2 linked regions of the Homo sapiens genome follow. The protein of the gene in region 2 interacts with the protein of the main gene of each other region in a pairwise test. Each region holds a gene or a part of one and is shown on either strand. Other genes may lie near its edges.

The links.
Region 1: the proteins of TRIOBP (region 2) and KCNH2 interact in a two-hybrid assay, tested with the Homo sapiens proteins (one study listed by BioGRID).

What each region holds. Positions count from the first base shown.
Region 1 is NC_000007.14:150,975,147-150,990,606, forward strand, and holds the start of KCNH2 (voltage-gated inwardly rectifying potassium channel KCNH2), read right to left. Parts: upstream 3,176-15,460; 5' UTR 2,768-3,175; coding exon 2,692-2,767; intron 2,210-2,691; exon of another isoform or gene 1,699-2,209; intron 1,613-1,698; exon of another isoform or gene 1,598-1,612; coding exon of another isoform or gene 1,444-1,597; exon of another isoform or gene 1,390-1,443; intron 330-1,389; exon of another isoform or gene 172-329; intron 1-171.
Region 2 is NC_000022.11:37,724,147-37,739,401, forward strand, and holds part of TRIOBP (TRIO and F-actin-binding protein), read left to right. Parts: coding exon 1-2,357; intron 2,358-9,151; coding exon 9,152-9,266; intron 9,267-10,252; coding exon 10,253-11,296; intron 11,297-14,461; exon of another isoform or gene 14,462-14,495; coding exon 14,496-14,573; exon of another isoform or gene 14,574-15,255.

The sequences.
Region 1 (15,460 bases), on a different chromosome or scaffold from region 2:
CCCCCTCCTCCGCCTGGCCCGCGGGCGGGCTGCGTGGCTTCCCCCGGGCAGGCCGCCAGCAGCCCGCCGCCTCCTCCATGCCCGAGGCTGAGGCCAGCCTGGCGGGTGTCAGCAACGCGTGTCAGCAGCCGCGGCGGAGGGATAAACACTGGGCCTAGAAAGGGAGCCTGGGAAAGGCCAGAGATGGCGGCCAGGATTCCCTTTGCATCGGCTCTCTGGATTCTGCTTTTAATTTCCCTGCTCTCCAGACTGGGGGGCGCTCCCTGAGCCACTCCTTATCCTGAGGCTCCCTAGGAAATCACTCCCCGATTATCTGAGGATCCTACCAGGTCAGTACCCCCTAGAACTTCTGCACACCACCCCCGCCCCAAGGGCAGTCAGGAGCTGAGGGGTGGGTGTGCCAGAGAGGATGAGGGAAGTTACACGTTGAACACCTAAGGACGCTGCATCTCATTAGGTCCTCTGACAACCCCATAAGGTAGGTGTTATTATCCTCCTTTTATAGATGAAGAAACCAAGGCTCCAGAGAAGTTCGGCACCATGCCCAAGTCTTGCAGCTTGTAAATGATAGAGCCAGCTTTTGAACCTTGGTCTGGCAGAGGCAGAAGAATAAGCTGAGGGTCACAGGCAGAAGCCCAAGGTCATAGGAAGCAAAGAGAGGGACCTGCAGCTCCAAACCCTGGACACACCTGGAGCCTGGGCGGGGCCTGAGACTTTGGCCCCACTTGTAGGAAAACAGACCCAAGAAAGGGGACCTGCCCAGGGATGTGAGGCCTTCCTCAGTTTGGCCTCATCCTGGATGAGCACCCCCATGGTTCCATTTCTGCCAGACTTGGCTCCCTGACTCCAGGCCTGCCCGGAGAGCCAGGCTGGCGAGTGAGCAGCAGGCAGGCAGCAGCCTCACTTGTGCCAGGCAAGATGCTCCTGGGATAAGAGCTTTTTATAAACAGAAGTTTCCGGCCACTTTGGCCTGTAATGCTGGGGCTTTCAGTAGCAGTTGGAATTCTCCCCCTCCCTTCCCCTCCCCTCCCCAGCAAGCATAGCCCTCAGGTTGCAGCCCTAGGCAATCCTACGTGCAAAGCTGGGCTGCAGCAGGGCACCCTGAGATAGGCCCAGGCCATCAGGACTTGGCCTCCTCCCACCTTTCTCGATTCTCCCTTCCCCTGGCCCCCAGAAAGTTGCCTTTTGGAACTGGTTCATCTTTTGGCCAGTTCCCAAGGCCCCCCAGACCTCCCAGGCAGCCATCAATTCCAGGAGTCAGGGTTTCCTGTCACCTGAAAAGACCCCCTAACTCGGCCTCCAGCTCTGCCACAGTCCAAGGCAGTCCAGAGGCCCAGCCACACACCCCAGCTTCATAGAAGAAAAACCACCCCTTGTCCTCTCTCCCAGGCTGGGGAAAGAAGAGCAAGTTTCTTCGAAGGCATGCCCCACCCCACCACACACCCTTCACTGAGATCCTGGAATACAGGGATGGGACAGAAAGCCTGCCCCTCCTCCACAGACCTGGAACCTGAGACCCAAAGAGGGAAGAGTCACTCAAGGTCACATGGCAGTCAGTGGCAAAGGTAGGGCTAGAATCCAGCACCCCCCCCCACATCCATCCCAGCCTCCTCGTAGGCCCGCCCACAGCCTCCCCCTGGGCCCACCCCCACCTCTCAGGGAGGCCCTCAACCAGTGTCATTGTCTCCACCCCCTCAGGATCATCTTGTTCCTCCGCTTCACACAATACTGACCATCGGACTGACCCCTCCTTCCCCCAACCACCGTTACAAGCACGCGTTGTCCTGTGCTCACAGGGTCATGGACAAGGAATGTCATCCTCTCCCAACTCCCAGGGCCCTTGGCAGTCACACCCACTGTGGCTCATGCAGCCTTAGGGACAGGCACATGAATGCTGCCCACCCCCAGGACATTTGCCTAATCTGGGACCCTTCTAGAAGCCTCCCTACCAGGCAGGCATTAGGGGTGCTGTACTCCCGGTCCCCATAAGGGAATTAGGTGACAGTCTCCAGGGCAAGAAAACCCACAACTTGGGGGTACCACAGGGAGCTGCTTACCCTCAAAGCCCAGCTCTAGCCCCAGGACACCCTGTCTCCACAGAGCCCACAAGCTCGCAGCCTTGTCAAAGACACCTCCCCACCGCCCATACAGGGTCTAACTCACGGGTGACACATGGGCTCAGGGTTATATACACACGGCACACACAAGAAGAGATTATGAGCTGACCCTGCATCCACGGCTTTTCAGTCCCTCCGGCACAACACAGTCAAGATCTGGCAAGACCAGTGTGCGCGCTGGACTCTCGGGATCCCAGGGTTTGGGTCGTACACACTCTTATGCCCTTGCACACAGCCCCATCCACGTCCACGCACCCAGAGTTGGGGACACCTGCACACTCCATCCCACATCCCTTCCCTGCACACTCAGCGTGTCACACACACTCCGATCCCAAAAGCCTGAGCTGAGTTTCCCGCCCCAAGCCCCAACCCCAAACCCTTTGGCCCGGTGCCCACGGCCCCGGTGCACCAAGCCTTGCCCCCGCCGTCCCCTCGCCAAAGCCTGGGGCCCACCAGGCCCCATTGACTCGCACTTGCCGACGCACACGGCCCGGGCACGCCCCCCCATCCACACTCGGAAGAGCTCGGCCCGCCCCCAGAGCCCCCTCCCCGCTCAGCCCCCTCCCCCACTCACTCTGGCCCTCAAACTTGCGGATGATGGTGTCCAGGAAGGTGTTCTGCGGCGCGACGTGGCCCCTCCGCACCGGCATCCTGAGCCCATGGGCGGGCCGGGCGGGCCCCCACCCACCCCGGCCCGGCCCGGCCCAGCACTAGGCTTCGGGTGGCCCGGCCGGGCCGTGGTCCCCGCACCCCGCGGCCAAGCCGAGCACGGGCGCGGCCAAGACTGGACTGCGGGCGCCGGGTCCTCGCTCGGCTCCCGGCTCCCCGCTCCGGACCCCGGGCCCGGCCTGGAGCCGCCTGAGCGCGAGCCGCCCGCCGCCGGCACACCTGTCTGCCGGCCCCCGCCGAGCCGCGGGGCCCGCTCCGCCGCGTCCCCGCGCTGCGCTCCGCCCGCCCGAGCCCCGGACTCCTGGCTCCCGCCTGCCACCGCGCCGACAGCCGCTCCAGCGCCCGCGGCTCGGGCAGCGCCTGCGGCTCGGCCCGGCCGCGGAAGGGTTAATGCGGCGCGCGCCCCTCCGGCTCCGGCCCCCGCCTCCCGGCCCCCTCCCGCCTGCCGCGCGCCCGCAGCACCGCCCTCTCCCCCCCCCATCCCGCCCCACCGCGCGCGCCCGACCTTCCCATTGGCTGAGCCGCGCCGAGTGCTCCCCCAACGCCAGCCCCTCGCTCTGCCAAGGAGCCCCTGGGACTCGCGCGCCCAGAAGAGGGGGAAGGGACCCTTAGGCAGGGGAAACCGTGAGGACAGGTGCCATGGCCGGCTTGTAGGCGGCCGGGATGGGGGAAGGGATTCCACCCCCACCCCAGATTAGCGACTAAGAAACCTGATTTGAAGGGAAACGGCGGGTCCTTATGCCCTGGTTCCCCACCACGCCGAGCACTGGCTTGGTATACACAGCACGCGCTCAGTGCCTACTGTGGGTGACCGGGGCAACGCCTGGACCCTCGAAGACGAGCCCGGAGTCAAGGGAGACCCTGGAAATAGGAAAAGCAAGACAATCTGAAGGCCCCAGAGCAGCAGAGCTCTGAAATAAGGGAGGGTTAAACTTAGAAGGGGCACGCCCCCTGCCCCAACACACACACACACACACACACACACACACACACACACATACACACACACACACACACACACACACACACACACATACACACACACACACGGAGAGAGAGAGAGCCCTCTGTGGGGCTCTGCATAGGAGCTGCACAGAGAGGGACATTCTGACAGCAGTTGCGGCCTCCTAGCTGCAGGATCAAAGAGAGGTCCCTGAGCGCGAGGTTCCAACCAGGGGATCCCCGGGTGCGAGCGGCCCGCCCTCCCCCGGCAGCCCGGGGCCAGCCTTGCACGCCCAATCGGCGGGCTCGGGGCCCTGCGGCGGCGGCCACGGCCCAGCCCCTCGGAAAGCCCTGGCCTAGCCGCAGGCCCCTCCCCCCGGCCAGCTGGCTCGCTCCAGCTGCGGCTCCCTTATTTAGGCAAGGAGGCCTAGGGATGCTCAAGGGCAGGCGGGGTGTCTGCCCCGCCGCCTGCTCATCGCCTGCTTGCGTCTGAGTGAGGGTCTCCGGGCGCGGTGTCCTCGGACTTAGCAGTCAGGCAGGGCCCCGGGAAGGCCAGGGCGGGGAGGCGAGTGTTGACAGCTGAGTGGGCGGGCGGGGAGGGAGGAGTCGCAGCTGAACAGCCGAGGGTCCCCTCCCTGCAGCCGGATCAGAGACCTGTCTAGATGGATGGGGCCATGTGGGGGCTCCTGAGGGCTTGCAGCTGCCTCTGTCCTTGGAGCAGGGGCTGGGTCTTGTCACCAGCGAGAACCATCATGGGGGGAGGGGAAGAACAAAGGGCAGGGAAGGAATCGGAGTCCCGAAGGAGGAAGGCGCAGAAAACTGTCGTCGTGAGACCACCCTACCCGGACTCTCACCTTCCACCCAGGAGCACAAAGATGCAAACACTGGGGCCAAATGGGGCCACTGGCCAGCAGATGACACTCTTTTTTATTTGCTGGTGGGTGGGCAGTGACTCAGGGAGGCAGCCAGTGGGAGAGAAGGAGGTGGCTCCACAGCTGATGCTAAAAAAGTCCAGAGGCTCTTGCCTGTGCAGTTATTCCTCAGGCCCTCTCCACTGCCAGCAGTTTCCTCACTCACCCCCCCGGGGGCCCAGGGCCTTCCACAGCACAAGCTCCTCCTTGGTGTAGCATTTGGCATCAGGTGCATCAACACATCTGGGTTCCGGGTAGAACCTAGTCCACGACTGGCCCAGCCCCCGCCACGCCCCAAGGCCACCCCTGGCTGCTGGGTTGCCTACCATGAATCCAGGATGATTCATGTGTGAGTGAAGTGTCCTCCTGTCCAGGCCAGGGGATGGAGAGAAAGTGAGCAAAGGCCAGCAGCTGAGAATGGGCATGGGAGGGCAAGAAGGGAAAGGGACATCTGTAGCCTCCCCCTCTCTCCAGACCAAGGGAGAGGGAGAGCCAGGCCCTGAAGGGAAGGAGCCACTCATCTGAGCTGGCCAGCTGTCCTCCACTCCTGTACCCGTGTTGCTGGGACAGGCCTCTGCTCTTATCCCAAAGGGAAGACAGGAGTCAGAGGAGCCCTTCATCCTCCCAAACAGAGAGGAGCCCAGGCACGGGGTAGCCCTCCTTCTGTGCACAGAGGCAAGAAGAGAGCTGTTCCCTCAAGCTGAGGAGAGACAGATCTCTCCCTCTCTCCCCCCAGCCCACTCCACATACTCAGAAGTCAAAGCTGAATGTAGATTTCTGACTTCCTTGGAGGCTCAGGGTAGAGCCTGAAGGCAGACCCACTTAGCCGCCCCCACACTCAAGAATTGAGCTGAGGAAGAGAAACGGTGAGAGGGGGCAAGCTCTCCCCAAAGCAACATTTCTGGGCCTCAGATGAGCTGATGGAGAAGCCCCCACTGCCTTCAACTTCCCACCTCTGCTACCCCCAGATCTGGGACAAAGAGAAAAGTGCCCAACCCTAATACCAAGAGCTGGGCTGTTAAGCCTCTAGAATCTGCCCCACCCCCATCTCAGCTCCAAGAGCCATTTCAGAGACCATTCCTGGGAAGAGCTCTCCCGCACCCTGCCTGTGACTGAGGGAACAGAGAGGCTACAGTGAGATATCCAGGCTCCTCCCAGCTCCCAAAAAGAAACAATTTAGGGAGAAAAGTCTGCAGAAAGCATCCTACCCACCCTGCTCTCTGCTCCTGCTCAGTCCGAAGGCATGGAGCCAGGACATCCTGGAAGGAGAAAGAGAAATGGAAGCCCACTCTGCCAGAGGTCCCCCAAGGAGCGGGCCAGGCAAGACACCACCAAAGTCAGGCCCAGGAGAGCCTGGGGTTACCCACAGGGGATTGGGAAGCAGTTCCAGTCGGCTGGGCACAGGAGAGACAGGTTACAGAGCAATGGTTCCTGGGAAACCCTGGGGAAGGAAGAACAGAGTGAGCAGGTCCCTTGATGCTTGAACACGGTGGGTTTTTTTTGTTTTTCTGTGCAACTGGGTCCCCAGAATAGAGATTTTTTTCAGATGTGAACTGGAGTTGGAGAAGAAAAGAATCAAAGAAACAGCATGTTTCCCCTCCAGAAGTGGATGATCAGGGCTTATTGATAGAAAGAAGGGAAGTAGGAAGGAAAGAAAGAAGGAAGAAAGGATGGAAGGAACCCGCCTGAAACCCCTAGCCAAGAGCCAGGACACTCTTCACTCATCGCCCTCTGCAGCTCCACATGTAGCAATCCTGCCAACCCCTGGTCCATTCCAAGGTCTTCTCTGGACAACCTGATCCCCACCTTTGGTGGGACATTTTCCCTGCCTTTGTGGTGTCAAAAGAAGCAAGTAAGGCCCTGGAGACTAGGATTCGGGAGATCTGACTTCTAATTCTGGTTCTGCTACTAGTTGCATCGACAAGTGTTTACTGGGGGCTTTCTAAGTACTGGGCCCTGTGCCAGACACTGCTGGGGGACAAGAGGGATAAGCCAGGATCCCTCCTCCAGGGATTCACAGTCTAGTGAGTTTTGAGGGAGACGGTGGGCAGACAGAAACTGCAGTCTGCAGTCAGTGCTGTGGGATTACGAGGAGGTGTTGGTTAATTTCAACCGGAGGAGTCTTGGAGGGCCTTGCCAGGGAAGGAGATTTCAGTGCAGGTCCTTGAACGTTGGAGGTGGGGCAGGGCAGAAGCATTGCAGATAGAAGAGACAACATAAGGATATATAAAGAAAGGAGAATGGAGATTGGGTCTGAGGACAAAATAATTTGATGTGGTGGCAGTGGAGCAGCAGGCTGGCACCATTTGCAGAGGGATGAGGACTATGAATTTTATTATCTCTGCAAGGGGGACACAGTAGTGGCAGGAAACAGTAAGGAAACAGTAGTGGCAGCTGAATGCAGAATCCATGAATGTAAATATTCTGTCTTTGTACAGACCCTGGCAAAGAGTAGGTATCCAAGAAAGGTTTGTTGATTGAATGAAACGTGTATAATAGTTTGGAGAAAATGAGGTGGATATGAGGTTTTTCCATTACCTATTGCTGCATAACAGCCATCCCAAGATCCAGTGGTTTAGTTGGATATATTTTGCTCATGGATTTGCAACTGGGGTAGTTTCCACCAGGACCACTTTTCTCTGCTTTACTCCAAACTAGAGACTGGAAGGTTCATCTACTTACGTTTGGTGGTTGGTGCTGGCTGTTGGCTGGGACCTCAGCTAGGACTGGGGCCAGACAGCTACACAACGCCCTTCTGTGTGGCCACTTGGCTCCCTCACAGCATGGTGGCTGTGTTCCAAGGGCCAGTGTCCCAAGAGAAGACCAGTCAGCAGCTGTATCTCCTTGAATAACTTAGCCTTAAAAAATCACATAAAACAACTTCTGCTGTAATCGTGACCCATCAGATGCAAGGAGAACAAACACAGACCCCCACCTCTCAGTGGAGGGGTGTTGCTGTCACACTGGAAGAAAAGCATATGTATTGGCACGACCACCTTGGGAAAATATCATCTGCCACATAGAGCAATACAATAGTCCAAGGGAGAGATGCCCAACACTTGAACCAGGTCAGAGGTGATGGAAAAGGGCCCATTTGTTGTGTAACTTTAGGAGTACCACTAAATCTCACTTTCCTTACCTGTAAAATGAGGAGACCAAACAAGCTGATCTCTGAGATCCCGTCCAGCTCTAGCAGTGAGTGATTCCTTAATTCCACACAGCAACACACCCACCCATGAGTGGTTCCTCTGTTTCTCCTCAATAGCCATCTTCACCTCCACCTCTTGCCTCTGCTCTCTCATCCTGGGTGCACTTGGAGCCAATGGTTACTCCACAAATAGCACCATGATCCATCCTGCATATTTATGTCAGACTAAAAATAAGTGGTGCAGGAGACCCCTTAGGACAAGATAGAAGCCCCCAAGACTGATCAATCTCCCATTTTATCTGCTGTGTTTGCATCACAGTAGCATCTAACTGGAAACCACAAACACAGGGAATTCATTATCTAACCGGGAAAAGAACCAATAGGCATGAAAAAACTTGGATATGAAATGTCAGAAGAACAATCTGGTGATGTTGAGGATACGTGGAGGGGTGTTCAGAAGAAGGAGGGCTCTGAGTGGGCTGGGTCAGCTCGGAAAATTTCCTGGGCGATTTTGGTCCTTCTGCATGGTAAGGGCTTTCTCAGGTACAAAGGAAGGTGGTGAACATCTTCATAAAGCAAGATCCCAAGAGGAGTCAGGTGTGGGTTTCCCCACCAATCTATACTTACCCCCAGATGAGAAAGAGAAGGGGCCAGTTTCAGTTTCCTCTGCCTGAAAACTTAATAGTCATCTGTTCCTTTGATTTAAAGACTGGGATTTTTAGACACAAGAAGGGGCTTCAAGTGAGGCTGCAAAACTTAGCAAGTACTAGAAGCTCCAGAATTACTATATAGGAGGGACTGATGGGGAGAAAGAATCCTATTATAAGGAGGCTGGGACATTTGTCTGAAGGTTGAATTTGCATGTATTCCTTTTTAAATGTATTTACTAAGCACCTAATGTGTACCTAACACTATTCTAGAAAATAGGTTGGTTTTGTTTTAAAAAATGCCCTGAGAGTTTGCAGAACTAGTGCACTGTTTTGACATATATTAGGGGGTTTATTTTTGAGTGCCTTCAAAGGATTAAAAAATATGAAGAACCAAGACATGCTTTGGGCAACCTTGCCAGGAAAGCTGGCCCTGGAGGAGATCCCAAGCTCACTTGGCTACTCAATGCCTCCAGCCAGGTTGGAGCTTTGTCTCTGTCCAAGGTGCTGAAAATACTTTACGGCAGGCTCAGCAGAAAACCAGGGAGGGCAGCCCAGGTGACAAGACTGAGGCACTCTTCAGGACACAGTGCATTAGATGGTCACCCCAAATCCTGAAAATGCCTCTGGAGCTGGACAGTAGCTCCTGGAGGCAGCACGGGGTGAAGCAAGAGCTGGGTTTGCCAGTCAATGCTGAGAAAACCATGTCTCATGTGCTTTCAGAGTGTGCCTTCCTCCCTCACTCCTCTGACAGCCATCAGGAAAAGATATGAATAAACCCCTGAACTTTACACTTGCAACTCTTGGGATTTCCTTTGGGAGTTTCTGTTGCTTTATGAAATATTAGAGCCAGAAGCAAACACTTTCATATATTAGACAATAAAACAGATATTCACAGTGACAAGGACTCCGCCTCAAGGTTGTGCCACAAGTTAGAAATGGAGCTGGACATAAAATAGTGTCTCCTGGTTCTTAGTTAAGTGATTTTTCCACCACACCAGGCCAGGTGGGAGATTACATACCACATATAACAAGAGCTAAAGAAATTTGAGATATGTGTGTGAGAGAGAGAGAGAGACCAGAGAACTCCAGATACAGAGGTTGCTCTGTCAGCTCTCCAGAACTTTTGCTGTTCATTCTGCTGATATCGGGCAGAATTAAGAGCCTACCCCAGCTTGGAATAAAAATGCTAACCCAACACTAGCTTCATATCCTAGCCCATCCCAAGGATCATCAGCTGCTGAGTCAGCCAACACCAAGGACCTGAGAAGAGAACTCAGGTTCAAATAGGTCTTGCATGGTCAGGAACGGTGGCTTACACCTGTAATCCCAGCACTTTGGGAGGCTGAGGCGGGAGGATGGCTTGAGCCCAGGTGTTCAAGACCAGCCTAGGCAACATAGCGAGACCTCATCTCTACAAAAAGAAAAAATTAGTTGGGTGTGATGGCACACACCTGTAGTCCCAGCTATTTAGCAAGATGAAGCAAGAGGATCGCTTGAGCCAGGTAAGTCAAGGCTGCAGCTACCTGTTAACTTTTCTTTTTCTGAGATGGGGTCTCACCCTGTCTCCCAGGCTGGGGTGCAGTGACACAATCATGGCCCACTGCAGCCTTGACCTCCCGGGCTCAAGTGATCCTCCCACTTCAGCCTCCCAAGCAGCTGGGACTACAGGTGTGCGCCATCATGCCTAGCTAATTTTTGCATTTTTTTTCAGAGACAGGGTCTCACTATGTTGCCCAGTCTGGTTTTGACCTCCTGGGCTCAAGTGATCCACCCTCCTCAGCCTCCTAAAGTACTGGGATTACCGGCATGAGCCACCATGCCCAGGTGCAGTGAGCCGTGATAGCACCACTGCACTCCAGCCTGGGTAACAGAGTGAGACCTTGTCTCAAAAAACAAAAACAAAAACAATAAACAAACAGGTCTCCCACTCCATCTTCTCCCTGATATACCCACAAACAATTATCCAGAGCTTTCTATGTGCCCCCCACTGAGAAGTGTTCCTAAGGAAATATATGATATACAATACAGTCCCTGGCCTTACAAAATTTGCAATTCGTTGAGAAGACAATATTTTCACCCATGATTAGACAATATTACAGGAGCCAAATACAAATAATGGCAGCTGACAAGAGAAGTTACACAGTCCTAGATCCCAAGTCTAAGAAGTGGTGCAGACCATGAATGCTTTTTCTTTTTCTAAAAATGTTATTCATTTTTGTAAAATAGAGACAGGATCTCCCCATGTTGCCCAAGCTGGTCTCAAACTCCTGGGCTCACGCGATCCTCCCACCTGGGCCTCCCAAGGTGCTGGGATTACAGGTGTGAGCCACGGCGCCCGGACAGACCATGAATGCTTTGACTTCAGGGTCTGAAGGAATCGTTTTAAGGCCAGAAGGATAAGGGAAGGCTTCACAAGGGAGGAAGGCTTCGCAAGGGAGGAAGGCTTAGGGAGAATTTGGCTGAGCTGAGAATTGTGGTCAGGACCTCATCTCTGTCCCTCTGGGGGACCAGCAGTCCAGTGCAGGGCCAGACAGAGCCAGTGAGGGTGTGAAGGTGACGGCAGAGGCCTATTGCAATGCTGGGGCGCTAAATGTCCAGGAAGAGCGCATTCGATCTTTCCCGGCTGAAGAAGAACAGGCCCTGAGAGCTCCCCCTTCTGGATCCGCGCAGCAGAACAACATCTCCTCTAGGAAGTGGGCTCAGCAGTGCCCGGCTCAGCAGTGCCCGGCTCAGCAGTGCCCGGCTCAGCAGTGCCCAGCGCAGACGGGGCTGGTGCTTAGGAAACCAGACGACAGACTGGGAACCCCATTTCCTGGGAGCCCCTCGGAAGCCTCAGGTCATCATCAACAGCAAATATGTCAGGGACGCCTCTGGGAGGTCACTGGGAGTCGGGCATGTAATCCATTTGGGGAGAGCAGGAAAAAAGACAAGTCACCAATGACTGAAGGTTCTCCAGGGCTTGAAGTCAGGATTTCCACATCTCACAGATCAGCAGGGGGCTCTAAAGGCTGCTCCTCCCACCCTGGTCTGGAGAGAGGGCCCAGCCCCTCCTGGGGGCACCTGAGAGGGTTCTGTCCAGACGATCCCAGTGACAGTTGCTGTGGAATTTCCATGCTGGGCACACTTGAGGCCCAAAGCTCCGATTCCCAAGAGGCGCCACAGCAACCATGCCAGGAAACTGGGCCAGGCTGAGGGTGGCAGGAGAGGGAGACAGGAGGAGGCAGGAAGGGGGCAGGGCCTGTCAGATGGATCCCTGACAACCATCCGTCTCAAGTCCGAGGTAACCTTATATCTTTGCCTCAGCAGATAGGATGACTTTGTATGTAGGGCCTTCAGAGCCCAAGACAGGGCACCTATGGTGAGCATTCAGGAGGCCTCAGCCTGCCCCTGAAACCCCCTCGTTCTCACTCTGGATCCCCGGAATAAAGGACAATTTCGGCCAGGCGCTGTGGCTTACGCCTGTAATCCCAGCACTTTGGGAGGCCGAGGCGGGCGGATCATGAGGTCAGGAAATCGAGACCATCCTGGCTAACACGGTGAAACCCCATCTCTACTACAAATACAAAAAAATTAGCTGGGCTTGATGGCGGGAGCCTGTAGTCCCAGCTACTCGGGAGGCTGAGGCAGGAGAATGACGTGAACCCGGGAGGCGGAGCTTGCAGCGAGCTGAGATCACGCCACTGCACTCCAGCCTGGGCAACAGAGCGAGACTCCATCTCAAAAAAAAAAAAAAAAAAAAGGAGGAAATTTCAAGTTCCCACGGATGGGAAAGCCTTCATATCCACACAGATGCTCTTGGCCCAAATTAGCTTTGGAGGGGCAGGGCCCAGATGAGGAGGCTGGTCAGTGAGGGAGCCCAGGATGCACAACCCATGGACAACTGCAAAACTGTGAGGGGGGGAGCTCCCCAGCTGGGGAGCAGGGAGGGGGCACAGGGAGATGCTGCCCCGCCCTCAGGTGGGCTCCCTGGGGCAGAGCCTGGTGAACCTCTTCCAGAGACGCTTCTGCCTCCTGGCTGACAGACCCAGTGACCTGGAAACCCAAGACCTTACCCTGGCAGTGGCAGGGGTCTGCCAGCCTCTGGGGGCTCTTGGGAGTCTGGACCAACTTCCACCTTCCCAAGGGAAATGCAAGAATCTCCAGGCCTTGATCAACCTTCAGGTTTAGATTCTTCCTTCAACACCACTGCCCTGAGTGTGTGTGTGTGTGTGTGTGTGTGTGTGAGAGAGAGAGAGAGAGTGCACGTATGCATGGATGTATGTGTGTGTGTCCGTTTGTTCAGGCTGCTGTAAGAAAACACCAAGGACCGGGTGGCCTAAAGACAACATAAATTTATTTCTCACAGTTCTGGATGCCGCAGTCTAAGATCAAGGTGCTGGCAGATTCCATGTCTGGTGAGGACCCACGGTTCATAGACAGTGCCTTCTCACTGTGTCCTCACATGATGGAAAGGTCTGGTGAGGACCCATGTTCATAGACAGCGCCTTCTCACTGTGTCCTCACATGATGGAAAGGTGAGGGATCTCTCTGGGGTTTTTTTCTTAAGGGCACGCATCCTATTCAGGAAGGTTCCTCCCTCACGATCTCAACACCTCCCAAACACCCCGCCTCCTAACACCATCACCTTGGGGGCTAGGATCTCAACTTATGAATTTGTGGGGAAATCAAACGTTCCCCGAAACATTTGTGTGTGTAAGAGAGTATGCATGGATGTATGTGTGTGTGACTGTGCATGCATGCATGTATATATGTGTATGTGTGTGCATGCATGCATGGATATATGTGTAAGAAAGTGTGCATGCATGCATGGATGTATGTGTGTGCGTGTACGTGTGTATGTGAAGATACCTCCTGAGCCTTCGGTTTGACACACCCCATGTGGTCTGTGCAGGAAGCAGGGAGGCGCAGATTTGTCCCAATCTGCTCCTCTGGGGGTGGGCCCAAATGAGCCACCTTGGGACCCCAGATGGCTGGTGTAGACCTACCACCCGATGCCGTTGGCTCCTTTCCTATCCCCTGGGTCTCCCCCTCCCTTCGTGGTGTCTGATCCCACGATTGTGCTGAAATCGCTCCTCCTCGGCTCTCTGCTGCCCTCATGTGGCTGTCTCAAGAAGGGCTGGGGCTACCAGGGGGCGCCCAGGATCAACACAGGAGCCCCTTCAGACCGGCAACCGCGTCCACAGCCCGGAACCCTCAGCATCCCAGAAGCCGCCCCAACGCCCTCACCAAAGGCTCAGCACCAATTCTGCAATCTGGAAGCTGAGCAAATCTCTCCGCCCCCCAGCACTCAGCATGAGTTACATCCTCGGGAGGGGGAGGCCTGGCGGCAGCTGCTCCCCGCCCCTCTCCCGCTGCTCCCGCCTCCCTTCCCTCCTTTCCCCGCTCCCCACCCGTCCTTGCCAGCAGGCAGGAAGGAAGCTGCTCATAGTGCAAGGGTGGGGTACTTCCAGCTCACACTGAACAGCCCCGGGCTGGGCTATAAAGAGTCAGGGACTTCCGCTCAGTCACCCCTGCCCTCACCACCCAGGCCCCCATGCACACACCCCAGGCCCAAGGCCTTCCCTTCCCAGCACAGCCCTCCAAGGTCAAGGCGTCCCCCGCCCAGCCCTGCAGAGCACTCTGGTCTGAGAGGGAAGGCAGGGGCAAGATTTGCCGCCTCTTTGGCATTATGGAGGGGGCAGGGGGCACAGGGCACAGCCCTCCCCAGGGAGGGATCCCTACTCACCCACAGAAGGCTGTCACCTTACCCCTGGGGTCTGGGCCAGCCCTCCCCGAGGCGGAAACACAGCCACTGTCAGGGACAAGGGGGCTCAGTTCCCAACCAGATCATCTCCAAAGCCCATTCAGCTTCAGATCTCATGATTGAAGATGGAAATTCTTTCAGCCGAACACCAAATCTCCAACCTTGAAAACTGTTTTTTCGGAAAGTCCTCTTTAAAACATGGTTACCAATATGAGCAGTCAGCCACTAAGATGCATGGGCATCATTCTTGGCAGGGCTGCAGGCATAGAGCAGGCCAGCACCAGGCAGAGCCCTGGGGACGGCAGGCCTCCTCCGACAGGCGGGGGAATCAACTGTTCTCATCAGAGCACCCTGATGGAAGGCAGGACACTCCGGACAACACTGGCCACGGCCCAAGAAAGGGGAAGCAGGGAATCCCCTGTCCAGAGAGCATTCATCTCTGACTTTTTCTGTCTGTTTAACTTTTTTTTTTCCTCCTTTTCTTAAGACCCTGCCATGGCATCCTCTGCCCCAATTCAAACCCAATCCAGGCCTACTCTGACCCTCAGCTTTCAGCGCTGACTGTACTGAACTGGACCCCATCCTCCCTGTGACCCTCAGCCTTCAGTGCTGGCTGTACTGAACTGTAACCCATCCTCCCTGTGGCCACAGAGTGCTCCTTCTTGCACTCCTCCCCTTCACCTAGACTGACTTCTTTCTGCCCACACAGACCCATCTAGCCTCAGCCAATTCCCTTCTCAGTGGACCCTCTCCATTGCCTCCAGAGCACAGCTTCCAGTCCCCAGGCGGCTGCACACATTTGCAACAAAACAAGCCAATGTATGAAGCAATCCCACTCAGTGCAGGAGCTCAACCCAGCAGAGGATCCCCACAGAGAGGAACTGACCTGTGTCTTCCAGAGCACACAGGTTCAGAGCACACAGGTTCATTTAAGTGAGAACCCACACTTACAGAGCAAGCTGCCCAAAAACCACGACCAGGAGGGCCCAGAGAAAGAGCTGTCCCCGGGGCCTTGGGGACAGGGTGACAGCCACCCAGAGATCATGGAGAAGGGGACGTAAGGAAGACCTCACAGAGGAGTCATCCTGCGACTGTGTTGGTTGGGTCCTTCAGGAAGCAGAGTCCCAGGAGTTGGAAGCATAAGAGGAATACTGCGGGCAATGCCTGAGAAAGATAACAGGGACCGGGAGCAGGAGTGAGTTGGGCAGGGGAAGGATCAGGCCCACAATGCCAGGCTCACACCTGCAGAGGAGGGAAGAAGAAGAAGGGCCTCACATCAG
Region 2 (15,255 bases):
GCCCAGCGGGACAATCCCAGAGCCTCCTCTCCCAATAGAGCTGCACGAGACAACCCCACAACATCCTGTGCCCAGCGGGACAATCCCAGAGCCTCCAGAACCTCCTCTCCCAATAGAGCCACACGAGACAACCCCAGAACATCCTGTGCCCAGCGGGACAATCCCAGAGCCTCCTCTCCCAATAGAGCTACACGAGACAACCCCACAACATCCTGTGCCCAGCGGGACAATCCCAGAGCCTCCAGAACCTCCTCTCCCAATAGAGCCACACGAGATAACCCCAGAACATCCTGTGCCCAGCGGGACAATCCCAGAGCCTCCTCTCCCAACAGAACCACCCAACAAGACAGCCCCAGAACATCCTGTGCCCGACGGGACGATCCCAGAGCCTCCTCTCCTAACAGAACCATCCAACAAGAGAACCCCAGAACATCCTGTGCCCTACGGGACAATCCCAGAGCCTCCTCTCCCAGCAGAACCATCCAACAAGAGAACCCCAGAACATCCTGTGCCCAACGGGACGATCCCAGAGCCTCCTCTCCTAACAGAACCACCCAACAAGAGAACCCCAGAACATCCTGTGCCCGACGGGACAATCCCAGAGCCTCCTCTCGCAACAGAACCATCCAGCGAGACAACCCCAGAACATCCTGTGCCCAGCGGGACAATCCCAGAGCCTCCTCTCCTAACAGAACCATCCAACAAGAGAACCTCAGAACATCCTGTACCCGACAGGACAATCCCAGGACCTCCTCTCCCAATAGAGCCACACGAGACAACCCCAGAACATCCTGTGCCCAGCGGGACAATCTCAGAGCCTCCTCTCCCATCAGAGCCACCCAACAGGACAACCCCAGAACTTGTATTCAACAGAACATCCCCAGATCATCTTCTACCCAACAAGACAACCCTAAAACCTCTTGTACCAAACGAGATAACCTCAGACCCACTTGTACACAGCGGGACCGCACACAGTCCTTTTCCTTTCAACGAGACAACCCTGGAACCTCCTCATCTCAATGCTGCACCCAAAAGGAGAATCTGAGACCATCATCTCCCCACCGCTCCACTCAATGGAACAATCCCAGGAATTCATCTCCCCATCGTACTAACAAAGACATCCCCTGGGCCTCGTTTCCCCTCCGGCCAACTCAGAGTGATGGTCCCCGAACCTCTTCCCCATCTCGCTCCAAGCAAAGCGAGGTTCCCTGGGCATCCATCGCCCTCCGGCCAACCCAAGGTGACAGGCCTCAGACATCCTCTCCCAGCAGGCCAGCCCAGCATGACCCACCCCAGTCCTCCTTTGGCCCCACCCAGTACAACTTGCCATCCCGGGCCACCTCTTCCTCCCATAACCCAGGCCACCAGAGCACCTCCCGAACTTCCTCACCTGTGTACCCCGCTGCCTATGGGGCTCCCCTGACCTCTCCTGAGCCCTCCCAGCCTCCATGTGCTGTGTGCATTGGGCACCGGGATGCCCCTCGAGCCTCTTCGCCCCCTCGCTATTTGCAGCACGACCCCTTCCCCTTCTTCCCAGAGCCCCGCGCCCCTGAGAGTGAACCGCCCCACCACGAGCCTCCCTATATACCACCTGCTGTGTGCATTGGACACCGAGATGCCCCCCGGGCGTCCTCGCCCCCCCGCCACACCCAATTTGACCCCTTCCCCTTCCTCCCAGACACATCAGATGCCGAGCATCAGTGTCAGTCCCCCCAACACGAGCCCCTTCAGCTCCCTGCACCTGTGTGTATTGGGTACCGAGATGCACCCCGGGCCTCCTCCCCACCACGCCAGGCCCCAGAGCCTTCCCTCTTATTCCAGGACCTCCCCAGGGCCAGCACAGAGAGCCTTGTCCCTTCCATGGACTCTCTGCACGAGTGCCCCCACATCCCCACCCCTGTGTGCATTGGGCACCGGGATGCACCCTCCTTCTCATCCCCACCACGCCAGGCTCCTGAGCCATCCCTCTTCTTCCAGGATCCCCCTGGAACTAGTATGGAGAGCCTGGCCCCCTCCACTGACTCTCTGCATGGCTCCCCAGTGCTGATCCCCCAAGTGTGCATCGGGCACCGGGATGCACCCCGAGCCTCCTCCCCACCCCGCCACCCACCCAGTGACCTAGCGTTCCTGGCACCCTCACCTTCACCGGGCAGCTCTGGGGGCTCCCGGGGCTCAGCGCCTCCCGGGGAGACCAGGCACAACTTGGAGCGGGAGGAGTACACTGTGCTGGCCGACCTGCCCCCACCCAGGAGGCTGGCCCAGAGACAGCCAGGGCCCCAGGCGCAGTGCAGCAGCGGGGGCCGCACCCACAGCCCTGGCCGTGCAGAGGTGGAGCGCCTCTTCGGGCAAGAGCGCAGGTGAGCCCGGGGGTGGGGTCAGCCAGGTGGGCTGGGGAGGAGGCTCGGCAGCAGGACAGGTGAAGGGTTAGGGTGCCAAAAGAAAGTGTTCAAATCCCCCTGGCTTGCCATTTACCGGCTGTGTGACCTTGGGCAAATCGCTCCATTTCTCTGTTTCTGCATATTGGGAGTTTTCTGTTTTGTGTGTGTGTGTGGTTAAGTGATGTCATGCACAGCCCAGTGGTTAACAGCAAAGACTGCAGTCAGGAGGGCTGAGTCCAAATCCTGGGTCAAAGCCACATGTCAACTCGTATGACCTGATATAGTGAGTTAACCTACCTGAGCCTCAGTTTCCTCATCTGTAAGGGAGGGGAACATGAGCACATTCATTCAAATAAGGGTGAACTGTCTTTTTATTTTTTATTTTTTGTTTTTTTTTTTGAGGTGGAGTTTTGCTCTTGTTGCCCAGGCCGGAGCGCAATGGTGCAATCTCGGCTCACTGCAACCTCCACCTCCTGGGTTCAAGCGATTCTCCTGCCTCAGCCTCCCGAGTAGCTGGGATTACAGGCACGTGCCACCACACCCGGCTAATTTTTTTGTATTTTTACTAGAGACGGGGTTTCGCCATATTGGCCAGGCTGGTCTCGAACTCCTGACCTCAAGTGATCCACCCGCCTCGGCCTCGCAAAGTGCTAGGATTACAGGAGTGAGCCACCGTGCCCGGCCAAAATGAGAGTGAACTCTCAAACCCTTTGATCCAGACTCATGGGTTTTTTTTTTTTTTCTTCCGTGCATGAGGGAGAAGAAGAAAGTACCCATGATTTTTTCCTGCCTTGGCAAAGAAAACTCATGGGTCCCTATGCATTTCAGAAAACAGTTATGTCAATTTAAAATGTATGGCCAGGGCCGGGCACGGTGGCTCATGCCTGTAATCCCAGCACTTGGGGAGGCCGAGGCGGGCGGATCACAAGGTCAGGAGATCGACAGCAGCCTGGCTAACACGGTGAAACCCCATCTCTACTAAAAATACAAAAAATTAGCTGGGCATGGTGGCGGGCGCCTGTAGTCCCAGCAACTCGGGAGGCTGAGGCAGGAGAATTGCTTGAACCTGGGAGGCGGAGCTTGCAGTGAGCCGAGATCGTACCACTGCACTCCAACCTGGGTGACAGAGTGAGACTCCATCTAAAAATAAAAATAAAATAAAAATGTATGGCCAGAGCTACCTATTTTAAGAAAGAAAGCTCACAGAATTATGGATTTTTAGCAGTCAAACATCCTGGGACACCTGAAGTCCAGGTGTCTTTTGAGTCTCCTTGGTCAGCAGCACTGGCCCCCTGGAAGGGGAGCATTTCCTCCTGATCAGGCTGAGGTTTCTCTCCCCAGAAGTTCCAGCCCTCGAGTTTTCAAGAATCAGAGCTAGAATTCCATTAGTTAGGGTCAAGAGAACAACAGCAACAAAAAGCAGTCTGGAAGTCTCAAAACTTTCCATGTATATAATTCAACGAATTTTTAGTTTATTTACCAAGTTGTCCAACCATTGCCACAATCTAACTTTAGAACATTTTCATCACCCTAAAGGGTATGGAATATTTTGTATCTAAAATTCCTCTTTGCTGCTCCTTGGGAAAGTTTTCTCCTGGATTTGAATCTGCATGAGAAACCTTATCAGTCTTGGCTGGGTGCAGTGGCTCCCTCCTGTAATCCCAGCACTGGAGCTTGCAGTGAGCCAAGATCATGCCACTACACTCCAGCCTGGGTGACAGAGTGAGACTCCGTCTCAAAAAAAAAAAAAAAAAAAAAAATTAGCCGGGCATAGTGGCACACGCCTGTAGTCCCAGCTACTCAGGAGGCTGAGGCAGCAGTATTGCCTGAATTTGGGAGGTGGAGTTTGCAGTGAGCTGAGATTGCGTCATTGCACTCCAGCCTGGGCAACAAGAGTGAAACTCCATCTCAAAAAAAGAAAAAAAAGAAACTTTATCTCTTGTTCTTCAAATTTCCTTTTCCAGTAAGCTTGATCATTTAATATCCAGATGACAACCGTGTGGTCTCCAGCATTAGTATAATTCTTTCTTTGGCCTTAAAAACAAAAACCCAGAGCAGTTTTAGGTTTACAGCAAAATTGAGCAGAAAGTGCAGTGTTCCATGCACAGCCTCTCCCACTACCAATATCCTGTACTAGATAGGTATGCTTGTTTCCAGCTCCTGGCCTCAAGGGATCCTCCTTTCTTGGCCTCTCAAAGTGCTGGTGAGCCACTGTACTGGGCAGTAGGGTGATACATTTGTTACAATCCATGAACCTACACTATGAAATCACCCAAAGTTTAGGGTTCACTCTTGGTGATGTACAGCCTATAGGCTTGAATGAATGTATGACAAGTATCCACCATTGTAACATCATGGAGTAGTTTCACCCTGAAAGTCTTCAGTGTCTTTAACTTTTTTTTTTGTTTGGAGATGGAGTCTCGCTCTGTCACCCAGGCTGGAGTGCAGTAGTGCAATCTTGGCTCACTGCAACCTCTGCCTTCTGGGTTCAAGCAGTTCTCCTGCCTCAGCCTCCCGAGGAGCTGGGACTACAGGAGCATGCCGCCACATCCGGCTAATTTTTTTGTATTTTTAGTAGCGACAGGGTTTCACCCTGTTGCCCAGGCTAGTCTTGAACTCCTGAGCTCAGGCAATCTACCCACCTCGGCCTCCCAAAGTGCTGGGATTATAGGCGTGAGCCACCGTGCCTGGTCTGACCTTTTTTTTTTTTGAAACAGGGTCTTGCTTTGTCACCCAGCAGTAGTGCAGTGGCGTGATCATGGCTCACTGCGGCCTCAAACTGCCAGGCTCAAGCGATTCTCTCACCTCAGCCTCCTCAGTAGCTGGGACTACAGGCGTGTACCACTATACCCAGCTAATTTTTCTACTTTTTGTAGAGATGGAGTCTCACTTTGTTGCCCAGGTTGGTCTCAAACTCCTGGCCTCAAGCAATGCTCCCACCTTGGCCTCCCAAAGTGTCTTTGACCTTTTTATGATTACTATTTCTTGTCTAATGTCAATTTTCCTAACTTTGTCTTAACTAATAACTCAGCAGGGACATTAAGGTCTTTAAGCCAAAGTTAATTAATTTTCTTTCCTTTTTTCCAGGATAATTTCAGAGAGATAAGGTGTTTATATTAATAATAGAAATGAGAAATATGTTTACACTTTTATTAACCATTTGTTTTTACACGATCACTCCTATACATTTAATTCTACTCTCTTTGAAATAGCTTATTTACCTTTTAGGGAAGTTTTCATAATTTTACTGAATAATTAAAATTTTTCCTCTTATCTGGCACCTTTTCCAAGTAGAAAACCATTCATCCTCTGAATATGGAAAATTTTAAAACTGTGCAGTGTGTGTGTAAGGGACAGACTGGAGCTTATGAGCGGGTGGCTGTAGGAGTGTGCTTTTATTTTCTCCTATTTCCTCATCGATATGTATTTATTGAGCATCTACTCTGTCCAAGCATTGTCCCGAGTCTGGAAAATTTTTCTTAAAGGGTTGTCACATCAAAGCATTGGGAGTTTTGGCTTGATCTTAATTTTTTTTTCCTTAGATGCCTTTGGCATCTCTTAGAGTCACGTAGCATCCTGTGGTCATTTGAATTCAAAACCTAGCCTTCACTGGATTTGCTAGACTTGATGGCTTTGCTCCTTTAATTCTCTCTGGAGGTCGAAGAACCCATCTAAGCTTCCGAAGGAAACGTTTCCTTTGTCATGCTTGGTGCGGCCACATCAACCCTCGGGAACAGGTGGCCCCGAGGAGACGCTGTTGCTTCAGCATCGGACAAGCCAGGTCTCTGTTGGGGTTTCAGAATCTTCTTGAGTCCCTCACTCTTTTCTCTCAGTTCTACATGGGGGAAAAAAGGAAGGCGAGTTCTCAGGAGGAATGCTCATCAAGCAAGCTGGAGTTCGTATGGAAAATGCATCCATCCGGAAGAGAACACACAAGTGCCTTGCTTCCCTGCACCGGGTGTTTCCACTATTGTCCTCCTGGTCCTCCCCATTAGGGAGGAACAGCCCACTGGGTCACGTCTGGGCTCTTGCTTCATCGAAGCTCCTATACCCCAGTTCGGGGGAAAATTCACTCTAAGGCCTTCAGCTCTCACAGAGTAAGGAAACGCACTCACCTCCAATTAGATTACAAATTGGCTGGGTGCAGTGGCTCATGCTTGTAATGCCAAGACTTTGGGAGGTCAAGGCAGGTGGATTACCTGAGGTCAGGAGTTCAAAATGAGACCAGCCTGGCCAACATGGTGAAACCCCGTCTCTACTAAAAATATAAAAATTAGCTGGGCATGGTGGTGGACACCTGTAATCCCAGCTGCTCAGCAGGCTGAGGCAGGAAAATCACTTAAAACCAGAAGGCGGAGGTTGCAGTGAGCTGAGATTGCACCACTGCACTCCAGCCTGGGTGACAGAGCGAGACTCCATCTCAAAAAAAAAAAAAAAAAAAAAGTTACAAACAGCCTGCCCAGGGAGCCCTCAAGCTCAGAAACACTTCCTCCAGGGAACTTTGGTTCCTCTCCGAACCAGCTGCCAATAACTGCTAACAACTAACATTATTGTGCTTTATGGCTCTGATTCTAATGACATTGGCAAAAGACATGAAACAACAAAAAACTCCAACCCCATACTTTTTTTTTGAGACAGGATCTTGCTCTTTCACCCAGGCTGGAATGCAGTGGCATGATCATGGCTCACTGCAGCCTCAACCTCCCAGGCTGAAGCGATCCTCCCACCTCAGCTTCCCAAGTAGCTGGGACTACAGCCACGTACCACCATGCTCGGCTCATTAAAAAAATTTTTTTTTCCTAGAACAAGGTCTCATTCTGTTGCCAGGGCTGTCTCAAACTCCTCGACTCAAGTGATCCTCTGACCTCAGCCTCCCCAAGTGCTGGAATTACAGGTGTAAAGACACTGTACCTGGCCTCCCAACCCCATATATATATATATATATTTTTTGAGACAGGGTCTCACTATGTCACCCAGGCTGGAGTGCAGTGGCGCGATCTCAGCTCACTGCAACCTCCACCTCCTGGGGTCAAGCGATCCTCCTGCCTCAGCCTCCTGAGTAGCTGGGATTACAGGCACGTGCCACCACGCCTGGCTAAGTTTTGTATTTTTAGTAGAGATTGGGTTTCACTATGTTGACCAGGCTGGTCTCGAACTCCTGACCTCAAGTGATCCACCCACCTCAGCCTCCCAAAGTGCTGTGATTAGAGGCATGAGCCACCACACCTGGGCTAATTTTTGTATTTTTAGAGACTAGGTTTCACTATGTTGTCTAGGCTGGTCTTGAACTCCTGAGCTCAAGCCATCCGCCTGCCTCAGCCTCCCAAAGTTCTGGGATTACAGGCGTGACCCATTGCGCCCTGCCCAATCCCATACTTTTGAAGGTGTCGTTCCAGCATGGCTCCTCAGGCACAGGCCCACCACAGACAGCAGGGCCTATGGAGGCCTGAGCAGAGTTTCCTCATACTTCCCTTTTTGCTGCCTCACTCTGGGTCCACCACAGGGTGGCCTTTTTCAGGCTTCTCTTCCTGGTTCAGTTCATCGACCAAAGACATGGCTCCATTTGCTAACTGAGACCCAACCAAAATAAACATTCATGGAGTGGTTGGGCCTTTTGTTGTGACCCCTTAGGTAGAGGAAGGGAGAGATATGCCCAGGTTCTGTTTGGTGTTTCTACCTGTCAATAGAGATACCACGTTAATCATTAACAGCCATGCCTCCCAGTTAGTAAGCAAGACAACTAACTGGAACTAGACTTTTTACACAAGTTAGAGATGATCTTCATCGGATGCGTCAACAATGCCTGAAGCCCAGTGTCTTAGAAACAACACTTGCCCAGGGTCAGGCGTGGTGGCTCATGCCTGTAATCCCAGCTACTTGGGAGATTAAGGCAGAGAATCACTTGAACCCGGGAGATGGAAGTTGCAGTGAGCCGAGATCGCGCCACTGCACTCCAGCCTGGGTGACAGAGCGAGACTCCATCTCAAAAAAAAAAAAAAAAAAAAGACACTTGCTTGGACAGTTTATGTTGGCCTCTCTGAAGTTGTCAGGGAGAATGTTTCTTTCTTCTGATCTTGCTCAGAGCTCTTTTGCCAACAGCTAGGATGGCCTGGAGTTTTCAAGGCTAAGCGCTGGGATTCTGTTGGTTAACAGTGATGGGAGGGAAAAAGGAAAAGAAATCCAAAATTTACAATATGGACAGGAAAAGGCAGAAAGAATGGAACACGGGGGCACACAGCAGTCTGGCTCTGTCGTCCCACCTCGTGGGCTGCGATCATGATACAAGTGCTTGGCCCCTGGAACATAAGAAGCACTCAATAAATGCTTTGTCATAATGATTATGTGTGCCCAGTGCCTGGTACACAGTAGGTGCTCAATAAATCTTAATTCCCGCAAAGACCAGTCTAACCTTTGTCTGGGGGTGGCTCTTGGGCTGCTGGTGGGGTGGTGGTTAGTCATAGGAAGTACTGGATGAGACAGGAGAGGGCCATGGCCAGGGCCAGATCCCCCTCCCCACCCAACCGCCTCTACTCCCCACTTTTCTCGTCATGTTCGCAAGAGCCTCATGAGGCAGAATAGAGCAGTGTTAACCATCCCCATTTTTCAGAAGGGGAAACTAAGGCCCTGAGAGTCATCCTCACTTAGGGCCCTTCAACGAGCTTGCAGTGGGTCCCTGGCTGTCCCACATCTCCTCCTGTTGGAGGTGGGAGCAGAGGGGCTGGGGTGCTGGGAGTGGGACAGTCCCTCAGAGGAGTGGCTGCATTTGCTCATAGGAAGTCCGAGGCAGCGGGGGCCTTCCAGGCCCAGGACGAGGGACGGTCACAGCAGCCCAGCCAAGGCCAGAGCCAACTTCTCCGAAGACAGTCCAGCCCTGCCCCCAGCAGGCAGGTGAGCACTGCCAGCTGTCTGGGGCCCCGCACCCCAAGGGGCGGCCACTGCCTCTTCCCTCCCGCTAGAAGCCAGGCAGGGGGCTTGGACAGGAAGGTCCTCTATGAAAGGGTCGGAGTCCAATCATGGGGATCCAGCTCTCCCCTCTCCCCAACGGCCAGCAGCTCTTGGCAAAATGCACAAGACCCCACATTAATCCTTTGAAGATAGCCCCTCTCCCACGCTATCCCCTTCCTTTACTAAGCACTGCTGTCTTTTTTTTTTTTTTTTTTTTTTGAGATGGAGTCTTGCACTGTCTCCCAGGCTGGAGTGCAGTGGGACAATATTGGCTCACTGCAACCTCTGCCTCCCAGGTTCAAGTGATTCTTCTACCTCAGCCTCCCAAATAGCTGGGATTACAGGCGTGTGCCACCACACCCAACTAATTTTCGTACTTTTAGTAGAGACAGGGTTTCACCATGTTGGCCAGGCTGGTCACTCCTGACGTCAAGTGATCCGCCCACCTTGGCCTCCCAAGGTGCTGGGATTACAGGCGTGAACCACGGCACCTGGCCAATACTGCTGTCTTGAGCAGATTTCAGGGAAAGCCTTGAAGCAAGAATCTGGCTCTAAGGGCCCTCTCTTTCAGGGTAATTTGTATCTTTAACCAAACCCAGAGGGCTAGGCCCGCCTCAGTGGAATGGGGTATTGGTGGTGGAGGTTCTGGCACCTGATAGCCCAAGTTGGAATCAGTATCTTTGAGAGGGGTGAGAAGCCAAGAACGGGGGCAGGTCTTTGCAGATCTTTTTCTGGAACTGAGGAAAGCGGGTGAAAGGGAGGAGCTGACCCCGGAGGGGTGGGGCAGAGACCCTGTGTACTTTTTGGCCTGCTTTGATTCAGGCTGCTGTGTGGACACAGCCTTGACTCTCTGGGGGCCTAAGAAAGGCAGAGCTGGCAGCCAGGTCCCCAGAGAGAGAGCCTCACCTACCCCCTCACCTCATCCCCAGGTGACCATGCTCCCTGCCAAACAGGCAGAACTGACCCGGCGGAGCCAAGCAGAGCCCCCTCATCCTTGGAGTCCTGAGAAGAGACCTGAGGGAGATCGGCAGCTCCAGGGGTCCCCGCTGCCCCCCAGGACATCAGCCAGGACCCCTGAGAGGGAGCTGCGGACACAGAGACCTCTGGAGAGTGGCCAAGCAGGCCCAAGACAGCCTCTGGGGGTGTGGCAGAGTCAGGAGGAACCGCCAGGGTCCCAGGGCCCTCATAGACACCTAGAAAGGAGCTGGAGCAGCCAGGAGGGAGGCCTGGGCCCTGGGGGCTGGTGGGGATGTGGAGAGCCCAGCCTGGGGGCAGCCAAAGCCCCGGAGGGAGCATGGGGGGGCACTTCCAGGGAGTACAAGGAGAGCTGGGGGCAGCCAGAGGCCTGGGAGGAGAAGCCCACTCATGAGCTCCCCAGAGAACTAGGAAAGAGAAGCCCACTCACGAGCCCCCCTGAGAACTGGGGAGGCCCCGCAGAGTCCTCACAATCCTGGCACTCTGGGACACCCACTGCTGTGGGCTGGGGGGCAGAGGGAGCGTGTCCATACCCGCGTGGCTCTGAGAGGCGACCCGAGCTTGACTGGAGGGATCTGCTTGGCCTTCTCCGGGCACCAGGAGAGGGGGTCTGGGCCCGTGTCCCCAGCCTGGACTGGGAGGGCCTCTTGGAGCTCCTGCAGGCCAGGCTGCCCCGCAAGGACCCAGCTGGACACAGGGATGACCTGGCCAGGGCTTTAGGGCCAGAGCTGGGTCCCCCAGGCACAAACGATGTCCCTGAGCAGGAGTCACACAGCCAGCCAGAAGGCTGGGCCGAGGCCACCCCAGTCAATGGACACAGCCCCGCACTGCAGTCCCAGAGCCCGGTCCAGCTGCCCAGCCCTGCCTGCACCTCCACCCAGTGGCCAAAGATCAAAGTGACAAGAGGACCAGCGACCGCAACTCTGGCAGGCCTGGAGCAGACGGGCCCCCTGGGGAGCAGGAGCACTGCGAAGGGCCCCAGCTTGCCAGAGCTGCAGGTAAGGAGGTTTCCACCCTCCCAAGGGTAGCCAGAAAGTCAGCCCCACTCAGCCAAGTCTCCTTGGAAAAGCCTCCCCTTGGAGTAGCCTAAGCTCCTGCATCCCCCTCCAGGCTCAGACCTCAGCCTCCCTGCTGACCACAACCCATCCCGATCACCAAACTGGCCCAACAATGATGATGAGCAACACAGTTTTAAGCGTTTATGGGCCAAGCCCTGATCTGAATGTTTGACGTGTGCTTTTCCCATTTAGTCTCCTTAGCAACCAGGTGAGAAATACACTATTTACAGATAAGGAAACTGATGCGCAGGGTGAAGCCACTTGCTGGTGGGGCATGGGCAAAACCCAGGTCTGCTCAGTGCAGACCACACTGAGGCCTCAAGCAAGATGCTCTGGCCAGGGCCTATTCCCCTCCTGGCTCCACCATACCTGGTTTATGTTGTGTCTGGTGGCACACACCTGACCCCACCTGGGACTGTAGCCAGTGTGGGCATGCCCCTTCCCCTGGTGGTACTCAGGTACCTGAGTCCAGGACAGCCTCGCTTACCCTCTCTGGCCCCTACAGCTCCTCTCAGACACAGAGAAGAGGGTGCATCAATGCTCACTGGGTTCAGCTAGCTGCCAAGACAGGCTGCTTAAATGAGGGTCGTGTGCAAAGTGGGCCCAGCGCCGGGCACACAGTAGGTGCTCGCCCTTCCCCTGCTTCACTGGTGCTTTGGTGCTGCCTTGAAGCCCAGAACATTCTTCATCTGAAGATGGTGGGCAGGGAGGGTCTTGGAGGCCAGAATCCTGCACCCTGGCAATAGCTCATTGGGAGGACGGCATGTGGTTTTGAACACCAGCCTCTCTCTCTCTCTGTAAGATGGACCAACCACTTCTCTGACGGGCAGCGCTGGGGTGCCGTGGGGGTTCCTGCTTGTTTCTCCAAAGCCTCCTCATCTCCTAGATGCAAAGTCCAACGCCACCTGCCCCAGGATGAGCAGGGCTTCCAGGCATCAGGGTGCACCCCGTGCTGGGCCCAGGGCCTTGCCATATGTGCCTCAAGTGGATAGGAGGCAGCTGCCACTTGACAGATGGGGAAACTGAGGCTCAGACTCCTTAGGCATTTGCTGGGGGTCACACATGCATAGGTCGTGAGAAATGAGATCAAAGCATCCACTCCAAAGTTTGTGCTTTTATTTTTATTTATTTATTTACTTATTGAGACGGAGTTTCGCTCTTGTTGCCCAGACTGGAGTGCAATTGCACAATCTCAGCTCACTGCAACCTCCGCCCCCCAGGTTCAAGCTATTCTCCTGCCTCAGCCTCCCGAGTAGCTGGGATTACAGGCATGTGCCACCATGCCCGGCTAATTTTGTGTTTTTAGTAGAGATGGGGTTTCTCCATGTTGGTCAGGCTGGTCTTGGACTCCTGACTTCAGGTGATGCATCCACCTTGGCCTCCCAAAGTGCCGGGATTACAGGTGCGAGCCACCATGCCCGGCCTAAGTCTGTGCTTTTAGCCACCACGTCACAAAGCTCCTGAGCCCATGGGAGGACTGGAGAACCCTCTCCCCTGTATTTCCCTGTGGCTTTGATGAGTTGACCCTCCAATCAACTCAATGCGTGGACATCAGAGAAGCAGGGATAAGTCAGCTCGTCCTGCCCTCAGATTGCTGTCAGGCTTGTTAGGAAGGCACACAGACAGCTCAAGGAGGACACGGTGCTGTGTCCCGGGGCATGCTGGGTGCCACAGGCCGGCCAGGTCAAGAAGGAAGTTAGAAAGATTCTTCAGTTTCATGGTGAAGCTCAGGGTTCTCAGGAGGCTAGGAGATGGTGGCTGGGAAGGGATGGGAGCACCATGTACTGAAAGGAATTTCACAGATGACAAAACGAGTAACCACCAGGTCCTGCTGGGGCTCCAGCTGCTCCTCTCTATGAAAATCCTTGGCTTGGCACAGCTGGGTGCAGTGGCTCACATCTGTAATCCCAGCACTTTGGGAGGCTGAGGCAGGCAAATCACGAGCTCAGGAGATCGACACCAGCCTGGCTAACACGGTGGAACCCCGTCTCTACTAAAAATACAAAAAATTAGCCGGGCGTGGTGGCGGGTGCCTGTAGTCCCAGCTACTTGGGAGGCTAAGACAGGAGAATGGTGTGAACCCGGGAGGTGGAAGTTGCAGTGAGCCGAGATCACGCCACTGCACTCCAGCCTGGGTGACAGAGCGAGACTCCATCTCAAAAAAAAAAAAAAAAAAAATCCTTGGCATGGCACTCAAGGCCGGCTTCCCTTCCTTCCACTCCGGATTTGCCTCATTGGTGCTGAGCTGGCTGCAGGGCCTGTGAGCACATATCCCTGCCTTTGCACATGCTCTTCCCTGTTCAGCCACCAAACGCCTGTTCATTGTCGAAGTCTTAGGTCAGGCTCCCTGTCCTGAGAAGCCTTCCCTGAACAGTCACTCCTAGTAATGGTCCCCTTCTGGGCTTGGCAGTTTTGCTTCCATTTGTCCATGCAACATCCATCTAATAGGGTTGTCATTTCCCCATAAGCTCCACACAGGCAGGATCTCTACCTGCTTTATCTCTGTAACTCTAGCTCTGGCCCAGGGCCTGACATAAAGGAGGGGACAGCTCAGTGGATGCATGCAAGATGGAGGACACAGGGGTCAGTGGGTGAACAATGAATGAATGGAGGGTGAATGTGTGAATGGATGATGGATCAATGATGCATGTTGAATGAATAATAGACATCTTTTGGATGGATGACAGATGGGTGATGATGGATGGATAGCTGGGTGATGAATATATGGTGGTGGTGGATATATGATGGATGTTGCTTAGGTGATGGATGGATGAACTTTGGGTGGAATATGAATGGATAGATGTGGCATGGGTGGATGAATGTCAGATGATAGATGTTGGAGATATGGGTAGATGGATGATGGATGGAGAGAGGGATATGTAGGTATTGGGTAAATGGATATGTGATGGATCAATGGAGGGTAGATACATGAATGGGTGATAGACAATGGATGATGGGTACATGAGAGGGTGAGTCATGTGATAGACACTGGATGGTTGGATGGATACATGGATCTACTGATGCTGGACGTTAGATGGGTGTTGCATGGACAGATGATAGAATGGATGGATGAGGTGGACAGATGCATGCATCCTGGAGAATAAGTTGGGCTAAGCTGTGTTCTTTTTTTAATCTCCAGTTCCAACCAGAGGAGCCTGAGGAGTCAGAACCAAGCAGAGGCCAAGACCCCCTGACTGACCAGAAGCAGGCAGACTCGGTAGCTGGGTCATGGGTGTGGGTACATACGGTGGGGAAGGGAGGGGGAAGCAGGTTGGAGATGGGCTTCATTCCTCAGAAGAGCCCTAGAATCAACCAGACCAAAGTTGGCATTGCCATGGGGTCATCTATGTGCATGGTGGGGCCTTAAGAAGAGGGGCTCTGCAGGAGCCACCTTCTGGCTTGGGGACCTGGGTAGGTGGGCGATCCTGGGGTCAGAACCCTAGGCCATGCTTCTCATTTGCTGGGACTGAAAAGGTCAATGTCTTTCCCTGCGCAAATGATGGTTTGGCCCCAGTGGTCTCTGTGGGAAGAGATCCTTCCGGTTTGAAAGGGCCAGGCCAGGCTGAAAGAGCAGGGCTTCCACGAGCAGGAGCCAGAGAGCTGAGGATGTACCCAGTCAGCCAGGCCTGGAGGGTCTCCAGGGTCCTGGAGGCGGGAGAGATATGTGCGGGGGTGGGACCCACGGATGCTGCTCTGAGGCCTGGCTGCAGCTGGTGAGCACAACTCTGCCCGCCCCTCCCCGTGACCTACCAAACAGACTGTTCTCGTCACCCTCAGCCTCCAGAGAGGTGAGATCAGAGTTGAGGGCCGTGGGGCAGTGGGAGGTGGGGGAGGAGGAGACAGACTGTTTGGGGCTGTGTTTTCCGGTCCTGCTCTTCCTCCCGTTGCCTCCTGAAGCC